Regions from separate parts of the Homo sapiens genome. Here regions 1, 3, 4, 5, 6 and 7 are each linked to region 2. The links come from fine-mapping of genetic effects on gene expression. A gene starts in region 2. Each other region holds a variant in brackets. All regions are shown on one strand. Distances are between the middles of the regions.

Evidence for each region. PIP is the estimated chance that this variant, and not a neighbour inherited with it, causes the effect.
Region 1: its variant is fine-mapped to the expression of PRKCH in whole blood (INTERVAL, PIP 0.94).
Region 3: its variant is fine-mapped to the expression of PRKCH in whole blood (INTERVAL, PIP above 0.99).
Region 4: its variant is fine-mapped to the expression of PRKCH in monocytes after R848 (Quach 2016, PIP 0.95).
Region 5: its variant is fine-mapped to the expression of PRKCH in whole blood (TOPMed, PIP above 0.99).
Region 6: its variant is fine-mapped to the expression of PRKCH in whole blood (TOPMed, PIP above 0.99).
Region 7: its variant is fine-mapped to the expression of PRKCH in whole blood (TOPMed, PIP above 0.99).

Annotation. Positions count from the first base shown.
Region 1 is chr14:61,523,547-61,527,613 of GRCh38, reverse strand. All of the region lies in intron 10 of PRKCH (protein kinase C eta), which reads right to left. Among named protein-coding and RNA genes, the nearest start is that of PRKCH-AS2, 20 kb to the left of the region's middle. RefSeq lists an enhancer at 2,097-2,246. The variant A/G (reference allele first, on the strand shown) is at 2,498.
Region 2 is chr14:61,319,239-61,323,305 of GRCh38, reverse strand. It overlaps PRKCH (protein kinase C eta), which reads right to left and starts at 1,727. Exons shown (of 14, transcript NM_006255.5): 1 at 842-1,727. The coding sequence starts at 1,204. It overlaps PRKCH-AS1 (PRKCH antisense RNA 1), which reads left to right and starts at 488. Exons shown (of 5, transcript NR_186042.1): 1 at 488-771. RefSeq lists enhancers at 295-838, 839-1,383 and silencers at 1,345-1,514, 1,665-1,934.
Region 3 is chr14:61,450,448-61,454,514 of GRCh38, reverse strand. It overlaps PRKCH (protein kinase C eta), which reads right to left. Exons shown (of 14, transcript NM_006255.5): 6 at 3,544-3,673; 7 at 1,162-1,289. Among named protein-coding and RNA genes, the nearest start is that of PRKCH-AS2, 93 kb to the left of the region's middle. The variant C/T (reference allele first, on the strand shown) is at 1,739.
Region 4 is chr14:61,341,887-61,345,953 of GRCh38, reverse strand. The region is part of intron 1 of PRKCH (protein kinase C eta); the gene reads right to left. Among named protein-coding and RNA genes, the nearest start is that of PRKCH-AS1, 21 kb to the right of the region's middle. RefSeq lists a silencer at 3,176-3,305 and an enhancer at 3,865-3,924. The variant T/C (reference allele first, on the strand shown) is at 1,692.
Region 5 is chr14:61,401,538-61,405,604 of GRCh38, reverse strand. All of the region lies in intron 2 of PRKCH (protein kinase C eta), which reads right to left. Among named protein-coding and RNA genes, the nearest start is that of PRKCH-AS1, 81 kb to the right of the region's middle. The variant C/T (reference allele first, on the strand shown) is at 2,126.
Region 6 is chr14:61,389,272-61,393,338 of GRCh38, reverse strand. PRKCH (protein kinase C eta) reads right to left here. Exons shown (of 14, transcript NM_006255.5): 2 at 2,051-2,114. Among named protein-coding and RNA genes, the nearest start is that of PRKCH-AS1, 68 kb to the right of the region's middle. The variant G/A (reference allele first, on the strand shown) is at 2,303.
Region 7 is chr14:61,471,792-61,475,858 of GRCh38, reverse strand. The region is part of intron 9 of PRKCH (protein kinase C eta); the gene reads right to left. Among named protein-coding and RNA genes, the nearest start is that of PRKCH-AS2, 72 kb to the left of the region's middle. The variant C/A (reference allele first, on the strand shown) is at 1,636.

The DNA.
Region 1 (4,067 bases), 200 kb before region 2:
GGAGTAACAGATTCCTGGCTGGACAAGAAAAGATCAGTTGGGGGAGGCTGAAACCGTCCAGGGAAGAGATGTTAAGACCTGAACCAGGACAGTGATGAATGGAATGGAAAATAAGGAGTTAGTCAGGGGAAAGGAAGCAGGGCTTCGGTGAAAGCAAAATCAGTAATAAGGCTTGATAATCACTTAGAGATAGACGGATAGAGAGAAGCAGCAGAAATGATGACTTCTGGGTTTGTCTTAAATCCAGTAGGTTTGTGGGGATGTTAATCAGGAAAAGGAAAACCAGAGTGAGAACAGGGTTTGTTTGTGGGTACCCCAGGTGCACAAGAAGCCTAGATTATGGAGACTGGTTGAAAGCATTTCCACCCCTCCTCCAATCCCTAAGAGCAAATTCATGTGGAAGGAAGTGAATATTCAGCAGCAGGATTGTTTGGTAAAGAGTCCTCAAGGTCGGCAGGAACATGGCCATGTACTGATAAAGCTGTCTGTAAATAAAAGGCAGTGCTCTCTTAAAAAAACCCGCTTCCCAGCACAAGCACCTGGTTGTCCTGTTGCCACCCATACCCCAGGGCACTGTTACAGAGGGAGGGTGGCATTGCTAGCCTCACAGGCACAGTCTAGACTGGACAGAGCAACAGCTTGGCCTTTTGGGTGAGACATTTACACTTTGGTTTTTAAAGGAACAATATGCTCAGAGGCAACCCACATAGGCTGATCAGTGACAAGGAGGCTGCAGGTCACGGGGGGGATGCTAGGTGGCCTGGAGCTTTGTGGTTAACTGCCATTGTGGGAGGCTGCCATGGCCTTGGGCCGCCTGGAGCCCCCCTCGCTGTGGCGTCTCCTCAGTGGCTGCAGCTGACTGCTCTTTCTGGAGTGCCATATTCACTGTGGGTTGTGTCAGGGCACTCGAGGTTCTATTTTCTTGCCTCAGTGTGAGAATCAAGGTCTGTTGGCCTGCATGGCCCAAGGCAAAAGGTTGGTCTCTGTCCAGCCTGGATCACGTTGCTGGCTTGGAGGAGGTAGGTGATGACAGAACTGGCATGACTGGTTTCCACACGCTGTCCTGTGAGTTGATACAGCCTGGCCATACAGGTCTTACAGAAAATGGCCACTAGAAAATGCCCAGGAATGGAAACCAAGTCTGGTATTCCAGGAATCCCCAATAAGTGTGGTTAAAGCAGCAAAGCTTTCATGGCACAGATCAATGGAACATAGAACAGACTTCTCTGCTCTTAGTAGCAGCCTCCCCGGGTGTCAGGGGCATAAGGCAAAGGCATGCTGAGTACCTGTGCACCCACTTCAGCGAAGCAAGCTTTCTGTGTCTCTAACCCAAACCCAGTCCTGGCTCCAAATCAGCCCTTCTCCACGCAGAATCCCATGTCCCATATAAGTGACTGTTTTCAGTGGGCTGATTTGTGGAAGCTGCTTCCTCCCCTGGCCCCACCACATAAATACAATATGAGCACAGCCAGTTTAACCTACAAAAGGTTGCAATCGTAGCAGCGCAGGACGGGAGCAGGGGTGAGGATGATCGTGGTCCTGCCCAGTGAAGGAGGCCACCACTCTCAGTTCTTCCACAAGTGTTTTCTGACTTGGGAGGCACTATAAGGCCTGGGTGCCTGGCTCCTCTGGGACTGCGGGCACACAGTAGAGAGGCGCCTGGCTGAGGTTAGACACACTAGTCTGCAGCCCCAGGAGAGAGCACGGCCGGGGGGACAAAGCCCATGAGCCCAGCTTTATCGACACTGTGTCCTAGCCTGACAAGCCAGGCCTGTGTGGACCTGAGCCCAGAACACTATCACTCACATTTCCAAACAAGGTCACTGAGTTTCTGAATTTTCCCGAAGCCAGTATGCCTGCTGAAGTCTTGGAAAGGATCTTCTTGGGCAACAGAAACAAGTGCTAACAGAAATCCAAAACGGTCTCAAGCGTTGACCCGCAGTTGCTTAAGAGCTTGTGACTAATGTCCCAGGTAAGAGGTCTGACTGCTTATTACTCAGCTGCTGTCATGGGCAGCAGGAATCGCGCAGGGAGAGAAAGTGCTGGGCCATCAGTTTTGTCAGTCAACTATTACAATCAGCTCTGCATGGGGAAGTCTTGGGACGCAGCTCTCAGAAGACGCAAGTGGGCAAGACAGGGATGTGACTCATCCTGGTCACAGGATGCCCGAGGCCACAAAGGCAGGTTAGACACCTTAATCCTGATTTCAATCTAATTTTAGGCATTCTCAGAACTGTATGAGCTGTAAAGGAAACGCCATGGCTGTTCTCATACCAAGTGCTATTTAATAAGACAGATCGCTCAAACTGGGATCCCAAGAGGGTTCAATTAAGAGCATAATGTAATTCCAGGCTACCAGTGCTGCCCTCAGCCCAAGTATCTCATACCTGCTCTATGAAGTCTGTCCTGATGTCCCCAGACAGTCATAGCAATATCAACTCTGCTCCTAGGGTGCCCAGTTTATACTTCTATGATAGCATACCCCGCACTGTATTCC[A/G]GAAGGCTCTGTCTGTGCACCTGTCTTCCTTCTTAGCAGCTCCAGCATGGTCCTGGCAGGAGGTGCTGACCAAAGGGATAAACAGAAGCATTTCAGATGGACCCCAATGGGACTGCCCTGGCCAACTCAGAGCCTATCTTATTTTTAGGGGATGGAAGGACACTCCATAAACTTTGCTCCAAAGTACTTAAACTTATAAAAAGCCACATGTTTTACCCCTTAAAGATAGACTCAAGAGGGAAAAGAAGAAACCTGAAATCAAAATTTAAATTCTTCTCTTTGATGAAGCTGGAGAAAGAAAGTGGTTTTGAAGGGTCAATTATTAAACAACGAGGACCAAGCAGAACACTTATCCTCATGTTGGCTTGCATCCAAACGGAAGAGCAGAACATGGAGAGGGTGACTCAAACAAAGCCAAAGATTATAGAGCCATTTACAGTCATGGTCAGCTTCCACTCTAAAGGGAAATCATGCCTTTATTTTTTTTAAAGCAAAAGAAGTCACCCTAAGCCTCCTGACTTTAGTTTGAAATATGCAGAGGTCAGTTTTTGGCTTAGGAGTACCTCAGCTTCCTATGCCAACATGTAACTCAGCAGCTGAACTTAACAAGGCTACACAATGAAGATTACAAGTTCATACAGGGCAGAGGCTCAAATACTAAAATGCCAAAACCACAGTTACCGGCTTGCCATTCATTAGCTCATTGAGCACCGGTATTTAATAGCTACAGCTTTTGTCATGCAAGCATAGAAGGGTAGAAAGAGTTATTCTATCCTCTGTGCTTGTCTGAAAGCTACATTGTTCTTGCTGGGTAATCAGGGTTACTTAAAATGCCCACAGTAGTTTCAGAGAGAATTCCCAAGTGATTGAAGACAAAGGAGATTCAGAAATTGGATTTATTTTGTTTCCACCATAAGCTATCCTGAGAGTAATAAAACAGATTGACATGAGTCTTACTGCTTAGATCACTAGAGTCAGTTACTCTTCCAAAAGAAATAAAGGAAAGCGAGTTGAGAGCTGGCTCCTTGAACAAGAATGAATCTAGGAGGCTATTTATATGAACTATTTTTAACATATTTTTCAACTTTTATTATGGGAAATTTCAAAACAGACAAAAGTAGGGAGAATGACACAACTCCCATACTGATCACACAGCCTCGGCACCTGCCAATGCACGTCCAAACATGCTCCCTCGCTACATCGACTCCCTCCCTCCCTGATCCATCTTTTATCAGATTATTTTGAAACAAATCCAGGATATGAGCTATTTCATCTATACACATTTTAATATCTGAATCTCAAAGATAATAATTCTTTAATAGAGTACAACTTTGATACCCATTATCATAAAATACACAGTCAATTTATGATTGTCAGCATACTGCCATTTGTCTGTTGCTCATTTGGGGGTGGTGAGTCTGTGGGTCTGTCTAGAAAACCTGGAAAAAAGCTTTTGTGAATAACAAGAATAACAGTGTCTTCAGTGGTTAACATATACTGAATGTTCATCAAATGCTAAGTGCTTTATCTATATTCTTATTTTATCCTCAAAATAACTCTATGAAGTAGG
Region 2 (4,067 bases):
AGAAGTTTTAATTGATTTACAGCAGAAATTATGCCTCCTGGGAACTATGTGAAAAGCAGAGGCAAGGGGAGAGCTGCGGGTAGCTACACGTCAATACCCAGGAACACAGGCTGGTGATGGGGGGAGGGAAGACAGTTAACAACCTCCTGAGGAGTCCTTACAGCCTCTTCTCAGACCCATAGCAGCAGAAACCCACACTGCAGGACTCCCACCTCGGACTGACTAAGTTACTTGCAAGTATATGTAAATCTCATCTCCTTGGAAAAATGCTAAATAATAAAACTGCCAACGTGCAGACCCAGGCGCTCATTTCCCTGCCAGTGTAGCTCATGTACCTCTGGGATGTGCAAGCCGAAACACGTGTGCACGTCTGAGCGGCTGAACCAACATGTATCCATAAACATTATGAATAATACTCGCGAGAATGTACGGCTTTCTCCTAAGTAGCGCTTGAAGCACTTTACCCAAATCAAGTCCCTTTTGTATCACTCCTTCCCTGCCTTTCCTACCTATCACTCTCGTGCTGAAAGTTGGAGCTCCTTACCCAAAGACTGGGCGGAAAGGGTGACCGCCCTGGACCCCTGCCCGACTTCCCGTTAGGCCAAGCCGCTGTCCTGAAAGGGGATCGTGTCCAGGCCGGCTTCCTGGAGACACACCTGCGCCTGCACACACCCACCGCGGTCGCGTCACCAGTGCCGCGGCCACGTGGACGAAGACCAAAGTCTGGAGGGAATTCCCTCAGCCACAAAGCGATGGGAAAGCGGGACCCGGGTGAGTTTTGAAAAACATAAGGGGAACGGGGGTTGGGTGGACACAAAGGGAAGGGGTCACCGCTACTCACCCAACCCTCGAAGGTGTCCGAGGCGCCGGTCGTGCGCAGCAGCTCCTGGAACTGCAGGGTGCAGTTGGCCACGAAGTGGTCGTAGCCCAGGGGCGTCTCGTGGAAGACGGCCAACTCGAGGTGGCCGCCGTCGGTGACGTTAGCGCAAAACTCCTCGTTGTACGTGGGTTTGTTGGTCTTCTGCTTGGTGCTGGTCTGGCCCACGCGCACCTGGTCCACGCTCACCGTCAGATAGGGGTCCAGCAGCTGGTGGCCCTTCTTGAAGAGCGAGTGGCGCAGGGACCAGCGGGTGGGCTGCAGCCCCACTGCCTCACCGATGCGGACCCTCAAATAGCCATTGAACTTCATGGTGCCAGACGACATGCCGGCGCCGCTGCCCCGGCCCCGGGGGGCCGCGCTGCTTCGCAGCGGGAGAACCGGGAGTCCCGTCTCAGGCCAGCCCTCGGGACAGGTGCAGGAGTCGAGGCAGCCCTGGGGAAAGGCAGCGCCTAAGCGCCCCTCGACTGGCCATTCTGCCTCCTCCGTGGGACTTTTCCCTCCCCTCCTTCCCTCCCTCCCGAGGTGGAAAGGAGGGGAGCCCGCCGCCGAGCCCTCAGCGGGCCGGGGAAGCCCGACCGTCCCTTCCAAGCGCGCGGCGCCTCCCGGGGACTCGCGCAGGACTCGCCCCTTCTCCAGGGCCGGGCAGCTCCTCTCCCTGGAGAGCCGGACCTACCCGTCCGGTGAGCCCCAGCCCCAAGCGTCTCTTCCCCCGCCTCCTCTTGCTTCTCCTCCTGCCCCCGCCTCCGAAGGCTCACGCTCTCCCCCACTCGGCGAGCTTCAAACCAGGAAGCAGCTGCCGCCGCCGCATCCCCGGCGAGAACCTCGCACCGCCAGGTTCCAAGTTCACAGAACCCCCGCGTCCGCTCCCGCGCCTTCCGGACCCCAGGGGCGTGGCCCGCGGTCCGCGGCCCGGCCCTGCGGTGGGTGGATCCCCGCGCAAGCCCCCGGGAGGCCAGTGCCCGCTTGCGCCGCCCTGCGCGCCCTCCTTGTAGCGCTGGGTCTGGCCGTGCGCTGCGGGTTAGGGGCCACCCCGGGCGCAGGCCAAAAAGGAAAGGGTTCGTGGCCCAGCCCGAGCAAACACCTGAGGCGTGGTAGACTGACCTGGGGAGCGATGGAAGGTTGGGAGGACGCAGAGGAGGGCGCTCCAGCCAGGAACCCGCGCGGCGAGGAGTCGCCCGCCCCCTCTCTCCCAACCTCCCCGGTGGGCTGGTGACCCTGCAGGGCCATCCCCAAGAGGCCCTGGCCGGAGGCGGGGGCACGGCGGGGAGGTTCTTTTTCCTAATATTTACAGGGATGGCTCATCCCGGGGTCAGCTCGAACGCATCCTGTTTGTGCGCCTTTCCTGCAGAGGCTAATTACACAGTTGTGTGTATGTGTGTGTTTTAATAGGGCAGTAGTAATGATGGAAATCCTGTTCGCCTCCTTCCTCGGAAGGTGTGTCTTGTTGCACATAGAGCAGGAAAGGTCGGTTCTTCTGGAGACAGACATGGCCAAGAGGTAATAAGTCTCTTCCTCTGCGGGTGGTTTCTGGTCCACCCAGCTCTGCGCGGCAAGGGCAGAAAATGTTCACACACACAGGCTGTCCCCAACACACACGCGGAAGAAATTGCCTCTTCTAGGAACACTCCAGCTTGTTGTATTTGCAGTCAGAGTGGGCAGCCTTCTGATGCTTCCCACCCCGTGGTCCCTGCAGATTTTGTCTCCGGGGAGGACCTTTTAGCCTACGCTGCTATGCCGCAAAGCTTGCTCCCTGAGGGCCAGCCACAACCAATTTGTTCCCCAAAAAGCCTAGGCCACTTTTTGTTGTTGTTGTTGTTGTTGTTTTTGAGACGGAGTTTCGCTTTTGTTGCCCAGGCTGGAGTGCAATGGCGCCATCTCGGCTCACCGCAACCTCCGCCTCCCAGGTTCGAGCGATTCACCTGCCCCAGCCTCCCGAGTAGCTGGAATTACAGGCATGCGCCACCACGCCCGGCTAATTTTGTATTTTTAGTAGAGACAGGGTTTCTCCATGTTGGTCAGGCTGGTCTCAAACTCCCGACCTCAAGTGATTCGCCTGCCTCGGCCTCCCAAAGTGCTGAGATTACAGGCGTGAGCCACAGCACCCAGCCAAGCCTAGGCCACTCTTAAGATACTTGATTACATTCTGTCTTGCTATACTGGTTCCCTCGGAGCAGATTCGGCTTGCTTTCATTCCTTTCTTTCTTCCTTCCCTCCTTTCTTTCTTTTATGTTTTAGAGACTGGGTTTTGCTTTGTCATCCAGGCTGGAATACAGCGGTGTGATCATGGCTTACCATAACCTCCAGCTCCCAGGTTCAAGTGATCTTCCAGCCCCTGCCTCCTAAAGTGTTAAGATTACAGGCATGAGCCCCCGTGCCTGGCCCCAGGTTCATCTTTCTAGCCCCCACTCCTCTAAGGCCCTGTTCAGAACTTTCTAATTGAGTAGGTTCTCAACGATTTCACATGAGTGCAAGGAGGCCTGACCCGTAATAACAGCACTATACAGAATGAAAACAAGTAAGGACAATGGGCCAGGGGGGAAAGGGCCTGTCTTGAAAACACCAAAGCTTCCTTAGAGAACAAGGCAGGGATGCAACGCATCACTCTAATGACATCTTAGCTTTAGGCAGGGCTTGTAAAGCCTGCTCCCAAACGTCCAGGGGGCTCCTGTTTGGCCTTAGTGCTCCAGGGGAAGATGTCGCATCTACCCTGTGGGTCAGCTCTGTCACCCTTTCCTCCAAACAGCTGAACTCTAGCTTTAAGAGCCACTAAAGGATTTGCTCCTGTTGGACTTTGGGGCTAAAAGAAAACAGTCCCCATACAGAATCATGGGGTGTAGACTTTAAATTTTTTTTTAAATTTTAAAAAGAAAACAGTCCCCAAATGGTAGGTGGCCACACAGCTGTCCTGGGACTGGGATATGACGATACCAGACACTCCATCTTCACCCTATCAGTACCTATCAGGATTGGCAATGGTGACAGAGCAGTGGGTCAGACAGCCATGGTGCCTGCCCTCCTGGGGCTTACAGTCCCACAAGGAGGAAAAACAACTAATAGAAGAGGGTGCAGTGAAGGAAAAGCCCACGGTGCCAAGGGGTGATGTATTATAACTGGATGGGTGGTCAGGGAAGGGTTCCTTGAAAAAGCAAATAGCAGAGAGATCAGCTCATTGAGAGCTCCTGAGGAG
Region 3 (4,067 bases), 130 kb before region 2:
ACTGGTCACCTGTCCTGCCTGGTCCCCAGACAAAAGCATAACCCAGGATCCTGGGTTTTAGGCTTTCACCAGACCACAGTGACAGGAAGCTGATTTTAAAACAGAAAAGAAAGGCTGGGCGTGGCAGCTCATGCCTGTAATTCCAGCACTTTGGGAAGCCAAGGTGGGCAGATCACTTGAGATCAGAAGTTTGAGACCAGCCTGGCCAACATGGAGAAACTCCGTCTTACTAAAAATACAAAAATCAGCCAGGCGCGGTAGTGGGCACCTGTAATTCCAGCTGCTCGGGAGGCTGAGGCAGGAGAATTGCTTGAACCTGGGAGGTGGAGGTTGCAGTGAGCGAATATCACTGCACTCCAGGCTGGGTGACAAAGCGAGACTCTGTCTCAAAAAACAAATAGAAAAAAGAAAAAAGAAAAAAAAAAGGAAAGAAAGGAAAAAAGTCCTTCTTTTGCTTTCTGTTTATTACTTGTTGCTCATGCTCATTATTTCTTGTCATATAACTGTATATACAATCTTATCCGTGAAACAAATTGCTATTAAAAATGCTATTTCAGCCAGACACAGTGGCTCACACCTGTGCAATCCCAACACTTTGGGAGGCCAAAGCGAGAGGATCGCTTGAGCCCAGGAGTTTGAGACCAGCCTGCGCAACAAAGTGAGACTCCATCTCTACAAAAAAAAAAATAAAAAATTACCCTGACATAGTGGTGCACACCTGCAGTCCCACCTACTTGGGAGACTGAGGTAGGAGGATCACTTGAGCCTAGGCAGTCGAGTCTGCAGAGAACCATAATTGTGCCACTGCACTCCAGCCTGGGTGACAGAGGAAGACCCCATCTCAAAAAGGAATGAAGACAGGGAAGGGGAAGGGGAAGGGGAAGGGAGGAAGGAAGGAAAAAGGAAAGGAGAGGAAAGGAGAGGAGAGAGAGAGAAAAAAAAGGGAGAAAGAGAGAAAGAAAGAAAGGAAGAAAGAAAGAAAGAGAAAGAAAGAAAAGAAAAAAGAAAGAAAGAAAGAGAAAGAAAGAAAGAAAGGCAATAAGTCTGTTTATTGTATTTGCTAAGATTAGGAACTTTGATGAGGCCACATGCTCTCATTTGGGCTCATCACATCTGAGCAACTTCTAAATTACGAGACATGGAAAAAAAGCAAAGTCTCACCGAGGTTGGAGAAATATTTCCGGGTTGGAGACCCATCCCTGCCAGGGTCTTGGCAAGTTCCACCGCATTTACCCCACAGTTAGGGGCCACGTTCGCTTGACATCGAATATGCACATTCATTTTACATACTAGAGGGAAAAGGAAAACAGAATCCATGTTCAGAAAGGAACCAATTCAACATGTGCTGCAACAGAGAACTTTAATAGCCTAAAAGATTATAACAGAGGAATTATACCGGCTGAACAGTATCATTTTCTCATAAAATTAAGCTCACACTAGTAATAGTTCCTGACATTTTATCTATTTCTGTTTTCTGCAGAAGCAGAAAGGCAAGCATACTAAAGAATAATATATTTCAAATACATTTTTTCCACCATGATTTGATGAAACCCATTCATCTAAATCACATGTAACAGGCATTGCTGCCTTAGTATGATCTAAGATTAAAACCTTTATCGTAGCGGCAATTCACAGGCAATTAAATAACAAAGAATCATGTCAACTGTATTTTTTTCTGTCTCTCAACAGTGAAATAAAAGGTAGCAGTTTAAATGCCACATGTAGATCACTGTTCAAA[C/T]AGGATGGAAATGGTGTTTCTACAAGAAAAACCTCTATCTGCAGCTTTCTTTCTGAGTATTGTTGTGGTTGGGCAGGCCTCACAGCACAGAGATGGGCATCCTGTGAGCCTGTGGTTCTCAGCATTTGCAGCCTGTGGTTCTAACTGCTTCATAGTGGGGAAAGGCAACTTTTAAAACTTTCTGAAGGTCAGAGTACAAATGGCAGTTGAAGAGGCGAGCAAAGAAAGCTAAGCTCCTGAGGCACCGGAAGCTGCCTGGGGACAATGAAGGATCTGAGGCGTTATCAGCTGGAATAAATTCTGAGACAGTTTTTTGACATGGGCCCTGCTGATGGGAGGTGAAACTGAAGCGACAAGCAACACATTCCTGTTTTATGGAGTCAGTCCATCTTGGAAGCACACACAGATCCAGGTTTTGTGGGGCCTGAATTTACATAATTTAGGAGGCCTTCTTTAAGAAAAAGAACACCAAATCAAGTAGAGGGCTTTGGAAGGTGCCCTTGAGAGAGAGGAGCCCTGAGACTTAAGCTTCATGGGAAACCCACCCCTCTCAGGAAGACAGGTGTAAGACACACGAGCCTACAGAAGCCTTTCAAAACCACCAAGTGACCATAAAGGCAAAAATCACAAGAGCCGGATTGCTGCAGGTGTGCTACCCTCAGGCCACTAGGGAAGAGGACAATGCAGATGAGCCCCATGCATGGCTCTGCGCATCAGCAACAATGCAAGGCAGAAAGGGATTTCCCACTGGGAACCCATACCCAGGTGAGACCGTCACGCTAAGATCAAGCTGCACCTGGACCAACGCCCTACAAGTTATCCATGAGCTGGCTACTGTTTTGGTTTTATGAGAAAAAAATTATTAGTGTTCTACAGAGATAGAAGAATGTGCCCTTCTTAAAGACAAGTGACTGGCCCCTTTTTGTTGACAGAAGCAGGCTCTGTAAGTCCAAGCAGTCAATGGAAGTTGTCTGGCTATACTCATGCCAATTCTACCTCACCATTGTTCTCCTCAACTGGCGACTTGGGGTGTGTCTGATAAGAAAGGCTTCAGGTGCACCCCACGGCAGTCAGATCATTACATTTCCATACAAGATGGCACAAGGCCAACAGCTCCCTAACTCCTAACAGGACAGGGATCAGCTCTCACCCACTCAGAGCCTTTGCTAGGGCCAAAGCTCCAAACTCTCACTCCACTGGGCACAGCTGGTGAGATGCAAGCTTACAATCAAGGCTTTATCTTCCTTCATTCTACCCCTGTCTCCAATCTCTTTCACAAGACCCAGGGCAGCTCTTTTTATGCTGTGACAACTCCATTCCTGCTGATTTCTGGTGAGATCATCAGATCTATTCTGCCATTTCTTACTCTTAACCCAACCTTCTCATTTGGCCATCTCACCTCCTCACCTCCTCCTAACTTCCATTTCTTTGAAATTTTTATTTATTTTTTTCTTTTTAGTGTCTCACCTGACTCAACCATCTTCCATTTCTGACTAAGATCCCATCTTTTTCTCTTCCAAACACCTATTAAAATACAGTGTCTAGGCTGTATTTGTCAGCTAGCGAGCTAGATCACTGAATATACCATTTGACTTAATGTCCTATGATTAGAAAATGTTGGCATCAGATGAAGTTCTCTTTACATGCCTGACAAGAAACATGTAAGTTTAAAATGACTAAGATGTTGATTTACAACATATCTAAAACCATCAGTTCTAGGACAGATTCTGAGTCCACAGAATTCTGAAAGCTTAGGGCATAGTGTTCCCATGAAGAGGTGGGTACCCAGCACCTCAGCATCTCACTTTTACACTGAAGTCCTTGTCGCATTATTCCCCAGAGCAGTGAGCCACAGTGATCGCAGAATGTTGGCACTTTGTAGTTGTGGATGCTGAACTTGTGTGGGATGTTGATCCCGAACCTCTGTTCTGCAATCTGTAAAAAAGGAAATAAAGGGACAAGAGCTAAAATGTCATACCAATGTCCTTTGTAAAAACTGTAATAGGAGCCCATCAAATGCAAAGTGTCACTATGACACCTGAGCTAGGTATATTATTTTACTGTACTCAGCCCTGATTAATTACTCAGGTCTTACGAACCAGACTAAACACATTTTCTAATGAACAGGACAAGACAGAAATGTGGGAAACACATTAGATCATTTGCCATTTTGAGAAATAAAAATTAAGATTTTCACTTCATCTTTCATATTCAGGCCATATTTCTCTCCTTGCCAATCCCCTAACACCCCCATCTATTTCCCAGAACCTTTTAACTTCAGGATTAAATGGGTCTTTTATACACTATATATACTTGCTATCACTGTAAG
Region 4 (4,067 bases), 23 kb before region 2:
CCTGAGGCAGGTGTAATGCAGCTTAGTGGTTCCATGCAGGTGCTCAAACTCTAGCTCCACAACTTTAAAAAAAAAAAAAGAGAGACAGGGTCTTGCTATGTTGTCCAGGCTGGTCTCAAACTCCTGGGCTCAAGCAATCCTCCTGCCTTGGCCTCCCAAAGTGCTGGGCCACCGTGCCCAGCCTTCACCACTTATTTGGGGCAAGTATCTTAACCTCTCTGAGCCTCAGTTGCCTCCCAAAGAGGAGGATAATAAGAGAATCTGAATATCTTGAAGGTATTCTGAGGATTAAATTAGTTAATGCACATGAAATACTTAGCCTGACACCTAATTAATCCTTATTGTGTATCTCCTATTATTGTATATTATCCCACTTGCTACTCTATTCATCACTCCTCTGCTCGCCTTCCCTGCTCCAACACTGCAGCAGAATTTAAGAGAGAAGGAACAAGTTAATGCACAGTTCACAGCTATTTCAGCCATCATGAAATTACTGCTGTGGCTGTCAGCCTTGCCTCCATATACAAATGTTGAAAGTTAAAGCCTCTGGATGGAGAAAAAATACAATTTTGTGGTAGTTGTTTTGTTTTCTATTGCTGCATAACAACGTATACTCTTTTCACTTGAAGTCTAAAACCTACATAGTCTGGAAAACTAAGTACGTTTATAACCATGAAGAGGCTGACAAAAGACTTCACAACAATCTATTCTTTCTACCCTCAAAGGGACCACAGTGACAGAAGATCCTGGTAAGACACTGTCCTCCCAGAAAGTGCTTGCTAGAAAAGGGTTTGAGAAGGGAGAGCCATTTATATGTAAATATCTTAGACTTGTTACCCCTAAAAATAGTGGAAAGAGGGAAATAATTTGTTAAGAAATATACCAGAAAAGGGAACTGAGGGTGAATGAGTATACAGCCTAGTACTGTGACAGGAACAGAAAGAAGCCCTCTTGGCCAGCCTAATGATAAGGTCATTCTCCCAAAGTAGAAACTGGAAAACTAGCATGTGAAGCAGGGCACGCTCAAGACTAGCCTCAATCAATCAACTGGGGGGTTCAGGGTGGCCACCGGGCTAAAAATAAATAAATCTTTTGTTCCAGATGACCTTTAAGGTTCTTCAAGCTTTAAGGGGCTAGCAATCTGGATCTGGTGAAAACAGGTCACATAGGCAGGCGGGAGGAACTTCTAGAAATAGCACACAAACAGCCATCACCCAAGCAAAGATCAGCAGGGTCAGGATTCATCAGTGCAAGGGACCACTCTGCCACTCTCAGTCACAGGCAACCCCGCTGACTACAGACCCAAGTGTCACCCGAGGCGTACCTGCAGCTGCTGGATTGATCGTCCCACAGCTGGCTCCAGAGGCCTTAAAAGAACAGGTCTGGTCACAAGGCAACCATCCAGCACTCTCCACTACCTTGCTTGTGGCTCTTTTCCTCTCAAGTAAGTTACTGAGACACATTAGGCACTTCATTCAACAAATCACAAAAAAAGATTAAATTTTGCCCCCCAAATCCCTGTTTGCAGCTGCCATACCTGGCACTCAACAGTTTATTTTCATGGAAACACCTGGCACACAATGGAACCCCCCAGCCTGCCTCCGTTCGTACCACAGGACACTTCTGTACTAGTGTGGCTGGGAAATGCCAGTCACTGTCTAACTTAACTCCTCACCCTACTTCCTCAGTGG[T/C]GCCAGGCATTTTACATTTATTTTCCTTTCTTCTTACGCATCCAGTAAGCAGCAACTCTGGCGGCAGAAGTGCATATGACATCAGAATTCTCAGAGCTAAGGGAACTTGCAGAGATCATTGGACTCATCACTGACCTGAAACCATGCTAAACCTCTTCTTTCCCAAGCACACAAGCAAGCTGTGTCCCTCAAATGACAAGCTCCATGGTGTTCTGATGATATACTGATATCATTTCAGTATGATGAGGGAGATTACTGGAAGTTTCACCATCGAGGAAGTCATCGTCCAAAAGAGCCACCATTATAAAATACAGGCCTTGTGCAGCATAAACATGAAATTCTGGAGGCACAGAGCTGAAGAACTGACTGTCAGGATCCCGGACCAGGGAAAAGGCAAAGAAGTCAGGCTGTACTTCCACATAGAAGATTCAAACCTGGAAAACATTTGTTCTAAATAATCCAGATCCATTTCCTGGTGCCAAATGTAATTCCTCATTTCAGTCTAACAAAGTTATGGACAAAACTCTTCTGAAATGTCTTTGTACTTAAAATTTTTAAGCCAATTTTACTCTTTCACAGTGTGTCACAGGATGTTGTGCAATCAATTATTACTCAAAATATTACTTGATTACAAAAAGGCCAGGTCTTGCATTGGCACATTAGATATATATTTTTTATGTTTAAAAGTGCTACATAAAAAAAAATCTATCATCGTGCCCTGCATTCTCTAGTCCTGGTTCTATCACAGCTCCAGAACAACTGGAAATATCACCAATGAAGTTGAAGACCCTCATTTCCTTAGAGTCCAGTCCTTTTATAGTTCCATAAGAGAAATCATCAGCCTCAACATGTAAGTCTTTTCTATCCAGTCTAGTGTCTGTTTTTCCTTTTTTTTTTTTTTTTTTTTTTTTGAGGGAACTGGTCATTATTTCTCTAAAGGGACATTCTTTAGGAAAATCTCTTCCTTGGGTTATAACTATTTCAGATTCATTAATTTCTTAACTGAAGTTACATTAAGCCCATTCTCCAGACAGGACACTAGCCTCCAAGCCAGTCCTTTGATTTATCAGTTCCAAAACTAGATGACTCAGGCAACTGCTATACTGGAAACGCCAATCAGGCCTTGAAAGTCAAGTCCAGTTAAGTAGCGATTATATTCCAGCCCACCCTGTCAGCAGTCAGATAAAAGTAAAGGCAAGAAGTCTGTGTGAGACGAATTGGTAAAACCACCTCTTTCAGAACAATATCGGATCCATGGAGAAACTGAAAGAGACAGAACTGCCTTCTCCAGAGATGACACTTCCTTGGCTATCTTGAGAATGAGGCGACACAGTTCTCAAACCCTAACAGCAGCTTCTACATGGCATTGTCTAATGTTAGCCGGTAGAGAGAAACACTAAGGGCAATCTTTTTGGCTGCTGGTCTTCAACAGATCATTTAAGACACCCCACTGTCATTTCTCATGTGGTAGTCAGTGAGCCTGGTTTTAAGATACCAAGGTAGACCAGAACACACTGGAAAATTTGCAGCAAGAGATGTTAAGATCTGTTGCATTTTCAGTGAGGGCTGAAACACCTCCGCCCTGTGGGTTCTGCTGCATAGCCACAACAGTGACACTGGCAAAGGGCAGAGTTCCTGTGGAAACACTTACAGTGCAAACCCGCTGGTGGAAATGGGTCTCTGAAAAAACAAAGGCTTCACACCCATAGAACATAGTGATGAAGCCCAGTGGAATGGCAGGTTTAAGCCGACAATTCAGTGTCCGAACCAAGTCAATCATTAGCTTCACATATATGCAGATAAAAATCCATAATTAATTAAAGGATAAAGCCTACAGAGATGACATATTCTAGGATTTTTCAAATCTTTAAGCAGCTGCTCACTGACTAACTCACAATCCAAGGCACCTCTCCAAGCCTTTTCTGCAGCCAGGAAAAGACAAACCAAGATAATCTACATTTATATGAGTTAGGTTGATCATATTATATGCTAATAAATGAGTTAGCTCCACCTTCACCATCTTCTGCTTGAATTTAATTAGTAGTTGAGGCTTTAAAAGGGCGCTCCCTTCCCCTCCAAATGAGTTTGGCACTCCTGTTCAGAACACAGAGTTGGCCACGTAGGAAAGGCTCTGCCCTTCCCATGAGACAGCCCAGTTACACTGCAGAGGCTGGTCACCAGGCTTAGGACCTCACAAGGTCAGCCCCATGCAAGTCTCAACTGTCACAACTATCTTCACCACCTTCAGGGGGAGGAGGAGAACCCTTTCTCATGCCTCACCTCAAGGCATCCAATTCAACCAACATTTACTCAGCACCTACCAGGGGCCATGCACTGGCAATACAACGGGAACCAAGACAAAGCCTCTGAACTCAT
Region 5 (4,067 bases), 82 kb before region 2:
GGAGTTCGAGACCAGCCTGGCCAACATGGTGAAGCCCCATCTCTACTAAAAATACAAAAATTAGCTGGGCGTGGTGCTGCGCGCCTGTAATCCCAGCTACTCAGGAGGCTGAGGCAGCAGAATCGCTTGAACCCGGGAGGTGGAGGTTGCAGTGAGCTGAGATTGCGCCACTGCACTCCAGCCTGGGCGACAAGAGTGAGACTCCGTCTCAAAAAAAAAAAAAAGAGCAGAAGATTCCAGCTGCGCCTAAATTTTCTGACTTTATTTTTGATGAGTGAGGTGCTCAAATAAGAGTAATTTCTTAATAATCCATAACTAGAACTGAATTACAGCTAATTATATTTAGGAGTGCATGGACTTGTTATAGATTTCCAGACAGTCAATTTGAACTTTTAATGCTTATTAAGCTGGGGATTGGCTCCTAATTTGGCTTAGAACAAAAAGAAACCATGAGGGAATTCACAGAACTGGAGAAAGTTGTTATCATGAATTTGGAATGGTTTCCGCATTAGCAAAATACATCAAGTCATAAATAGATGTGATGCTGTGCTCTTCAAGCCCCTAACCAAAGGGGAAAAGACGTGCTCAGTGAGCCAAATGGTAAGCCAGCAGCAAGCATAAGTGAACATCACTTAAGTGACAAGGGTATTCTTGAAGAGGAAAGTGACATTAGCAGGGCACCAAAGTTGTGCCAACAACCATGTGGGCACCTCCCCTGACCTCAAGGCCCAGCTACACTCCTCTCCCTGCTGCAACCCTTACAGTATTTGCACTTCCTGTTCCCCATCCCAATAGACAGACTCAAGGTCCACTCCCTCCCTTTCTTCAGACCTCTGGCTCAAATGATACCTCATCAGAGGGGCCTTCCCTGACCATCTGATTTGAACAAAACAGCATACACATAGGACCCATCTCTGTCCTCTTACTCTGTTTTATTTTCTCCATAGCATGTACCACCTGTGGAGGTACATATTATGTTAACCTTTCTAATTGTTTATGTCTCCACATACACACCAAATTTTGAGTTCTGTGAGAACAAACCAGTGTCATTACTAAGTACATGCATACACACATGCATGAATATATACATCCATTACATAGTTTTCTACATAAATACTCTGTGGGTGGGTGGGTGGGTGGATGGATGGATGGATGGATCCACTAAACCTAAGTGGGGATAACATAAAAGTATTGCTTGACCCAGGACATTTTGTAAACAAATGAAAATTCCTAGAGGAGGCAACTGATTTTCTCCAAAATCCTATGAGAACTAAGTTTCCACTTACAAAATATAAGGTGGTCTCTTACATATACAAAGAATGTATCTGCAACCTCAGGCCACTGTTGTCCATGCCCACACTCCCCATCAACTTCATGCAGTGGGTTATCCACTGCTGACTTGAGACCAGAACACAACTCTCAGCCATCAGGATGAAAGAATGATGCTGAAGACGAGTTTCACGGTAGAAGGGAAGAAGCAGGTCTTCCTACCTACTACCTGTCCACTGACACAGGGTGTTATTAGGGAAAGCTTAGGAAAAGGGTTACCAACACAAGTGGCCTGGAAAACAAACTCTACTGTCTTGTTCATTTGAAACAAAGAGAGCAGAGAGATAAGGGGTTGCTGGAAATAAAATGGAAGTATAATGAAAACAGACACTGGAGCAATTAACTTTTCTATCAAAAAATTAAATCATTCTTGTTTTACCCAAACCTCAGTTCCATAGAGAGAATACCACATCACTATAATTTCAAGGAAAAAACAATAAAGCTTGAAAAAAATTAACAAACGAGTCAGCCTCTGTTTTTCAAGAACCTTGATTAGAAAAGGAGAATGCTAGTCAGTAAGCGAGTGCCATAGAAATGTGTCTCCTGAGGCTCTGTCCATGGATCTTGAGCTGTTTTTGAGGTTCAGCTTTTAGTGCTCACAGCACTGATCACTTGTTCAGAAGTATCGTGACTGCCTTGTTCTGCTCAAATCAAGCAAAGGTTTAGCATGAAGCTATCTGTAACAGGCAGCTCTAAAGTTAGAAACCACCACAGGCTTCTGAGTTGTTTTGGTGTCACTTCCTGACCTTATTTTTATGAGAACAGGCTTATAACAAAAACTGGCTGAAAAAGTACA[C/T]TGCACAGCAGAAATAATCAGAAACAAAAAGAAAGTTTCAAAAAAATGACAATTCTGTCACCTGTATCACCTAACTGTACATATTTTTTTCTGATTATAACATACACAAATATGTGTCAGTTCCTTCTCCCTGTGGTCATTAAAATTTAAAGCACTGGGCTTTTGAAAGAATGTAAGAAAAAAATAACCTAGAAATTGTAAAATTTTTTGGTCCAAGTACCCCTTTGAATGGATTCTACTGATATTTGTCAAATTAGAAATTTAAATGGAGACATTTAAAAATATTTATCATTTATTAAAAACAATAACAATTCCATTACATGTTAGTATACACATTTTAATAAAATATAACTACATTTTCAAACATCCCCCCAAAGATAGAGAGAGTGGCATTATTTTACAATTTGCAAATCTCTTTAATGTCTGACTTAAAAGAAGACAGCTAGTGGGGAGGCGGGAGGGATAGCATTGGGAGATATACCTAATGCTAGAGGATGAGTTAGTGGGTGCAGCGCACCAGCATGGCACATGTATATATATGTAACTAACCTGCACATTGTGCACATGTACCCTAAAACTTAAAGTCTAATAATAATAAATAAAAATAAAATAAATAAATTAATTAATTAATTAAAAAAAAAGACAGCTAGATTCTTTCTTTTTTCTTTTTTTCTTTTTTTTTGAGACAGAGTTTCGCTCTGTCACCAGGCTGGAGTGCAGTGGCACAATATTGGCTCACTGCAACCTCTGACTCCCTGGTTCAAGTGATTCTCCTGCCTCAGCCTCCCGAGTAGCTGGGATTACAGGCACGCACCACCACACCCAGCTAATTTTTTTTTGTATTTTTAGTAGAGACGGGGTTTCACCATGTTGGCCAGGATGGTCTTGATCTCCTGACCTCGTGATCTGCCCGCCTCGGCCTCCCAAAGTGCTGGGATTACAGGCGTGAGCCACTGCGCCCAGCCTGACAGCTAGATTCTCATATCTGCTTCTGTATTCAAGCCACTGTAATGTTGTTCTAGTTGAAGTACATGAATACAGTCCAGCCTCACACAGAGTAATTTAAAAATATAATTTTAATAGATTTTTCAGATAATTGCAGATATTCTTCTTTAATACCACACAAAAGTAAACAAGGCGTAGTTTCTCAAAAGTTGGTTGCAATATAAAACTGTATCAATGAACTTTTCATACTTTAAATTAATATACATGAGTCTACCTTACGCTTTCAAGAGATCCTTGACCCATAAATGATTTTATAACATCTCGTACTGGCCATTGTGAAAATACGTGTTCACTGAATCATTGGAAGTCATCTTCTAAATGTTGACATATCTCATAACACAATTTTTAAAAATTACAATCGTTAATAACAACAAACTCATGAGAAAAGAATAAGTACTGGGAAGTTGTCAAGCTCACAATGGTGGATATAAACTTTCCAAAATTCGAATTATGTTTTGAAGGCTCTAATTTTATCACTGGCACCAAATACTTACAGTTGTTTTCCCTGAAGTAACAGGCGCAGTTCATTCGTTTTTTAGACAATGTCTGAAAAATCTGCCAGTTCCACAGTATGGTTTGTCTGTCATTCTTTCAAAGTAAAAATGGTGTTCCATGCAAAAAGTGGCTAGCTCAGCTAACAACTCAATCACACAAGTGCTTTTCCTTGAGACACAACAGTATTTCAGTATGAAGCAGGAATGCTTTTAGCATATTTCCCATTTTGTCACACAGAATGTTACAAAGGTATATAGTCAAGGATTGACCTTTAATAACATGAATAATGTTTACTGTTCCATCAAAGACATTCTTAAGTGAAACTAGATTTCTTCCTCCTGCAACTACGTGGCCATCAAGAATACAATGATGACTTTATAGTTTGGTGCCATGCTTTTACCCACCATTTCTCTTTTGCACCATTGGGGCAAATGTCAACACA
Region 6 (4,067 bases), 70 kb before region 2:
ATCCAACACAATTTCAATTCAAAATACAGCAGGATTTTGTCTGGAAATATATAAGCTGACTCTAAAACTGATATCAAATTGCAAAATACTGAGAATAGCTAAAATAACCTTAAACATACAAAAAAGAACGGAGTTGGAGGGCTCATACTATGTAACCATAAGACTCACTATAAAGCAACAGTAATGAGACAGTGTAATACTGGCATAATGTAGAGAAAAGAAAGAGAGATCAGATGGACAAACAGATCAACAGGACAGAACAGATAATCCAGAAACAGACCCACATTATATGGTCAATTGATTTTCAACAAAGGTTCCAGGGTGATTCAAGGGGCCAGGGGAGACTTTTAATAAATGGTGCTAGAACAACTGCATTCGTGTATTGAAAAAAAATGTTTCAACTCCTCTGTAACATCACACACAAATATCAATTTAAGAAGGCATACAGACCTAAACATAAAACCTAAAACTATTTGCTTCTTAAAAAAAAAAAACAAAAAAAGAAACAGGAGAATATCTTAGTGATCCTATGACAGAGAGATCTCTGAAGACATAAAACATATGAACTACAAAAGATGAGATTAACAAATTGAACTTCATAGAAATTTAAAACTTTTGCTCAAAGACACCATTAAGAAAATGAAAAGGCAAGCCACAGACTGGGAAAAAGTAATCACAATACCTATTTCTCACAAAGGACTCATATCCAGAAAACAAAGAACTCCTCTAAATCAATAATAGAAAGACAAATCCAATTTTAGAAAACAGGACAAAAGACTGGAACTGGAAATTATCAAATAAACAAACAAATGACCAATAAGCATGTGAGAAAGTACTCACCATCAGGGAAATGCAAATTTACCCACAGGATATAATTTCATACCCACTAGAATGTCTACGATGAAAAGCAATGGCCATAGAAAGTGTTAATGAGGATATGAAGTAATTGGAACTCTCATGCATTGCTGGTGGGAGTATAATAAAACCACTTTGGAAACCATCTGGAAGTTTCTTCTGAAGTTACACACACACCTACTTTATTACCCAGCAATTCCACTCCTATATAATTATCCAAGATAAATGAAAGTGTTATGTCCAGAAAAATTTATGTGTAAGAAGGTTAATAAAAGCATTATTCATAATAGACAACAATAGGAAAAACCCCAAAAGTCCACCAAGAGGAGAATGGGTAAACAAATGGATGCTACATTTATATAATGGGATACTACTACTCAGAAATAAAATGAAAAAAATACTGATATACACAATGATATGAATCTTCTAAAAACTATGCTGAGTGAAAGAAACCAGACATAAAAGAGAATATACTGTATAATTCCATGTATATGAACTTCTAGGGTAGGTAAAACTAACCTGTGGTGAAATAAAGCACTTTACTTATTGCCTCTGGGAGCAGGGGATTGAAAAAGGGTACAGGGAAATGTTCACAATAATGGAAATGTCCTGTATCTTGGATTGGGGTGCTGGTTATGCAGTTGTATGCATTTGTCAAAATTCAAATTGTTCACTTCTGATCTATCATTTCACCCCCATATAAATTTTACCTCAAGTAAAAAAAATATTGGATGGGGGAGTAGGGAGTACGGTAGCCACAGATGAAGAACAGAATCCCTTACAGGTCACAAATGAGATAGAGATTATAAAGAAGATAACTGGATCCCTAAATTTCTTTCATAGACATTCACAGGCAAACTAAAAGATGGCACAAAACCAAAGACGTAGAGTTCCACAGTCATGAACCAAAAAGACGCAAAAACCATTCAGCTACGATGACACTGGCTAAAAACAAAAACTCATTGAGTGTGTTAAATGAAACGTGAGATTGCCAGATTTAGCAAATATATTTAATTTGGCAACCTGAACCAATAGACCACTGGGCAACAAAATACTAGCCAGCCCAACTTATGAAAGTGATTTTTTAAGCATCTCTTACAACATGCTCTTTTTTATAATGTCCATGATAGAAATTCCTACTGAGTGTAAACCAAGATTACATGTATTCTGGAAACTACCCAAAACTCATTCTTACCTTCAGTGAAACTCCCGGTAAGGGTTATTACCACAAATACTTTCCCCTCTGGCTCGAGATCCACCTACAAAGAGAAAAAAAAATGTATATTATATGTTAGTTTTAAAATATTTTTGTGGGCCTTAAACAATTCATCACAGAGAGGCCTAATGTGTAAATCACAGCCACAAATCAAATAAATCTAAGTCTTTCATTAAATAGTAGAGTGGCAGGGAAACAAGTGAAAGCTCAAAAAACTGTAAAGACTGAAAA[G/A]AAACCACATTTTATCAGTTTCCTTCCTCTTGAATTTTATTCTCTCCCATTTTTGGCTTGTCATAATATAGACAGGCACATCCACATACTTGGTAATTGTTTTTGAGACCTCCATATCTTATGCATATGGCTTATAAGAGCAGCATTTTACTAAACCACATGGCAAGAATATGAAATAGAGAAATAACGGCAACATACAAGGTAATGAACACATGTGGCTTGGTCAACTGCAAATCTTTAGTTTTATGGAGTAAAAAGTATAAAGAGTCTCTGCTACATATTTCCACCAAAGTCTGGTCAATCTTAAGGAAGCACTAGGGAAGGAAGTTTAGGAGCCTTGCATTCACTACTCTTTTTTTTTTGAGAGAGAGAGGTAGTTTCACTTTGTTGCCCAGGCTGGAGTGCAGTGGCATGATCTCAGCTCACTGCAACCTCCATCTCCTAGGTTCAAGCAATTCTGCCTCAGTCTCCTGAGTAGCTGGGATTACAGGCGTGTGCCACCACATCTGATCTGTTTTTGTATTTTTTAGTAGAGATGGGGTTTCACCATGTTGGCCAGGCTGGTCTCGAACTCCTGACTTCAAATGATCCTCCCGCCTCAGCCTCCCAAAGTGCTGGGATTACAGGCGTGAGACACTGTGTCGGACTGCTACTCTTAATTAGTCACGGGAGTATCAACATACCTTGAAGTTACCTATCAGCTGAAATATCAAGACATGCATTCTGCAAGCAATGCAGCTTGAAGTCTTTTCATATGGTGTCGTCCTCTGCATATAGTCCAGTTTCCGAAAGACCCCATACAGCATGGCGCCCAGGATGAACAGCACCTCTGGCTCTGTTCTGATCACCACTAGCTTAGGTGGGCGGACTCCCCTCTTCCTACCGGATGCTAACTTCACTATCCATGAACACCTCTAAGCCTTGCATTGTGAGGCTCTTGTGGACTCAAATACATGAATTTACAATTGTCCTTAAATAAATCTTTTCAGATTCTGCCCATGGCTCCATTTTTATTTTATTTTTCTCTTTCTTTGGCTGTGGCTCCATTTCTGCCTTTGACCTTTCATCTGAAGAGGAAGACTGGCATATAGAGAAGTTTCACTAGAGATACGAATGACCATTTTTGGTCAAATATTAAATTTAAAATAAGCTGCAAATAGTCACATGGTACAGTGGAAAGAGCCCCCCTACTAGACCAGGCCAAGAACTCTAGTCTGATTCTGTCACAGCTGGTTCTGGACCCTGGGCAAGGTCCTTTACCACACTGAGCCTCACTCTTCCAATCTGAAAAGTCTATGGCATCATTATTTAGCATTTTTTCTCTTTTTTTTTTTTTTTGAGACAGGGTCTCACTGTCTCCCAGGCTGGAGTGCAGTGGCACAATCATAGCTCACTGCAGCCTTGAACTCCCAGCCTCAAGCGATTCTCCTGCCTCAGCCTCCCAAGTAGCTAGGACTATAGGCATGTGCCACCATAACCAGCTTGCCTGCTTATCTAGGTATGTATGTATGTATGTAGAGACAAGGTCTCACTATGTTGCCCAGTCTCAAACTCTTAGGCTCAAGCAATCCTCCCACCTCAGCCTCTCAAGTCACTGGGATTACAAGTGTGAGTCACTGTGCCTGGCATTGGCCTAGCGTTTCTAACACAGCCTCCACATATGATCTCAAAGATTTTTTTTTTTTTTAAGACAGAGTCTCCCTCTGTCACCCAGGCTGGACTTCAATGCTGCAATCATGACTCACTGTAGCCTCGACCACCTGGG
Region 7 (4,067 bases), 150 kb before region 2:
AGATTTCAGGGCAAATAAGAAGTTTTCAAGGTAATGTTAACTAGATTTAATTTTTCCTTTGTGTCCTAATTATACTTAACATTTTATAGCATGTTTTAAAAACAGAAAGGAAAAAGTAAAAAACATACACTTCTCTTTTCATTTATATTGCATATTATTTCCTGATATAATTAGTCATCAAGACCATGATTTTTTTAACAGTTGCATGCTATTCCCGATGCCAGTTCTATGAAGTCCTACAATTAGCTTGACTTCTAATTAGGTTAATGAAAATAAAAGGACACAGCTTTTATAGTCTCTATGCCATGATAAAGATCATTTTTTTAGCCTGGTAAAGCAGGCATCTCTCAGTGGAGATGATTGCTAACTGGGCACGGTGTTTTAATTGATTGGTCAATCATTTAGACATCACTAACCTTTAGAGCACCCCCTAGTGGTCGAGAAGAACGTTTGAACAAACCTCCTAGTCAAAAACTATCCACATTTGAAATACACTAAAACTTAAGAGTCACAAAGAAGATATCTTGGATGATTATCTACTTTTTAAAAAAGGTTTAGCAACTTAACAAAAGCATCCACAATAGGATTTCTTCAAGTCATTATTTCACATAGTGAAATTCTCTTTATAAAGCTTTTGGTTTAAGCATCAAATAGGATATTTATGGACTTAGTTTGTATAGGGCTTGTAGGATAAAGAGTAAAAATACCATTTCATTTATTTAGATCATTTTTCATGATGGAGATCCCTAAACTGTGTAAACTTTTAAGACAACCACAATTTCATTTCTCCCTCTGATCTATGTATGAATTCGACACTTATGCCATGTGGGAAGATATTTTGGGTTATAGTTGATTAGACACTTTGCCCAGTTAGAGAAGTAGAGACTATGGCCAAGAATATGCCATATCTGCCTCAAGGTGATGCCTGGGAATCTACTGGCTGAGAATTCATTTCCTCTCCCCCTGTCTGCAGTGCTGATGCACGGGCCGAAGTTTCTGTGTGGAATGTGCCTTTCACATGCTATTCTGAGTTTGATTCCTCCACTGTAGCCATGACAAACTCTTCTCTGGTCCTCTGGCTGGGGAACAAAATCTGTTCAAGCAAATGACATGCCCACAATTTCTTCCCAAACTATTAAAAAATTTTTTTAAAATTATACTTTAAGTTCTAGGGTACATGTGCACAACGTGCAGGTTTGTTACATAGGTATATATGTGCCATGTTGGTTTGCTGTACCCATCAACTCGTCATTTACATTAGGTATTTCTCCTAATGCTATCCCTCCCCCAGCCCCCCATCCCCTGCCAGGCCCCAGTGTGTGATGTTTCCCACCCTGTGTCCATGTGTTCAACTCCCACCTATGAGTGAGAACATGCAGTGTTCCCAAACCATTTTTGCAATCTGGGTTACATATTGATCTCCACTGTCAATTAAGGAAGAAAGTTGCAGACCTTACTCTAAAGGTATGGAGGCTAAATTAAAAGAGGTGGAGCTCTAACAGGAAGGGGAACAGTCATCAGAAACAGCTTAAAAGGTTTATATGGGAGAAAGCACATTGTGTTAACTTTGAAGGCAAGCTTCAGTTGGCTAAGTGGAGTTCAGACAGGTTCTTAAAACCCCAAAAATGAGCAGAT[C/A]CTAAGATGGTGACACCAAGAACCTCATGCCGTATCCAATAGAACTCTGAGTCTGTTAGTGAACTGACTTCATCTCAGCACTTGATTTATCCTACTATGAAACCACTTCCTTCTGATTCTTCTTCTTTTTTCCACTCAACCTTAACCCTTACTTAGAATTCCTTCTTCAAGTCTCCTCTCTTCTCTCTCTATAAACATCTACTAAAAGATTTTTGATTTTTTTTTTTTTTAAGACAGAGTCTCGCTCTGTTGCCCAGGCTGGAGTGCAATGGCGTGATCTTGGTTCACTGCAACCTTTGCCTCCCGGGTGCAAGCGATTCTCCCTGCCTCAACCTCCTGAGTAGCTGGGATTACAGGTGCGTGCCACCATGCCCGGCTAATTTTTGTATTTTTAGTAGAGACAGGGTTTTGCCATGTTGGCCAGGCTGGTCTCGAACTCCTGACCTCAGGTGATCCACTCACCTTGGCCTCCCAAAGTGCTGGGATTACAGGTGTGAGCCACTGCACCTGGCCTGAAAGATTTTATATTATAGTTTCCACTTACCAAGAGGACATGGATGACACCAAACTGATCTCCCATCTCAAGTGTGTTTCTGACAAACAAGCATCTTACCACTGAATTTCCCCCAAACCGAACTCATGCTATTCCATTCTCTTTAGGCTTCCAAATGGCCAGAGCCCTGGCCATTCCCACTTAAAAAGTCCTATCATGTCTACTTCTTTAGTGTTTCCTTGACTCCACTCCCATGATTGCTGCCTTGGGGCAGGCAAGTTCCCAGATCACGGGCCCAGCATCCTCACCAGATCTGCTGCCATTAGCCTCCCTCTGTACATAGCAGCCAGAGAGAGCCTTCTAACATGCAAATCTTATGTTACTCCCTCACTTAAAGATTTTGCTGGCTCCTTTTACCTAAACAGTTTAGTCTAAGCTCCTCAGCAAAGGACATCAGACCCATTATGACTTTGCTTCTTCATCACCACCCCCCTACCCCCGCCGCCAACCACCACCATTTCCCTTCTTACAAATCTGCCTCATCTAGTCATTTGGGGTTTCCTGGGCACATCCTGCAATTTTAAGCCTCTGTGCCTTTGCACTGCTGTTACCTCTGTCTGGGAGTCTATGCCCTCCTCTTGTGACTATAAGATCCCTATTCATCTTCAAAACACAGCTCACACAGCCCCTCCTCTGGGAAGTCCTTCCAACCTCCACGAGGATCAATCATGACTTTCTTCTCTCCATCACATGGTGTTATCATGACCTTTGACTGTAAGCAATTAAAAGGCAGGTCCACATTTTGTTCTTGTGTCTTCATCCCTGGCACATAATGCATGCTCCATAAACATTTACAGAATTGAATTTAAAATGCAAGATAAGTACACTAATACCATTCATTATATTACAGAAACAGGTAATGTCTCTTTTGGCTAGGGTCTACTTTCAATATTTAGAGACTATTCAGCCTTAAGATAGCATTTAAGGTTCTACTTTTTGTTTTGTTGTTTTTTTTGTGTGTGGGTTTTTAAAAAATTGAGACAGGAGTCTCACTTTGTCATCCAGGCTGGAATGCAGTGGTGCAGTCCCAGTTCGCTAATGCAGCCTCAACCTCCCGGGCTCAAGCAATCCTCTGGTAAGGTATCCACATTTCAAGTTGAAATGGCATTTCCATGTATGGGAAACAAAAGAAAAAAAGCCAGCAAGTGGCTCTCCCTCAAAGCCCAATCATATTGCTATCAGCACGTTTTCCCATGCTGGTTGGGAAACATTTTGCAAAACTCTGATTATCTGTTTGTACAATCCAACCACATGTACCACACACAGGATGGGAATCTGACTCACAAAGTTCAGGTTTGGGAGGATGCTTTTCATAAAATGCCACTGACTCAATGCCTTGCTGGTAAAGTGAAAGTGTAATTATTAAATGCTAAAACAAGACAAGCTGCAGTATTTGTACTGCTTGCTTTTTAAAAATAACCCATTTTAGATATATGCTCAGTCAGCTAATCTTTTGCTCCCTGGATGCCCCCAGGCTCTGATAATAATGCCTTATCGAGCAGCAGGCTTCACTGTTGAGAGCTGCCAGCAGCATGCCAGCCCTCACTCACATTAAACAGACGCTGCACGCTTCCGCTGTCTCCCCCGAGCTCAGGGGCTCCATCCCTAACAATGCCACTGTCAGTGCAGGCACCAACAGCTGTAATGAGCCCCCAACAGGAACTTTGCCTTTCTACAAACTCAGAAAAAAAATAACGCTTATATTTTCATAAAGAAGGTCTGACACATTTGGCTTTGGCTTCTATAAAAAGAAAAGTGATCGTCTAACCCATTTGACTTTTCATACCAAAGACAATCACCTGACAGTCATGTAAGGGAGCCAGGGGAGATTCTTCCCCCCTGGGAACCAATGTCTGGCGATATGTTTGGTTGTTATAAC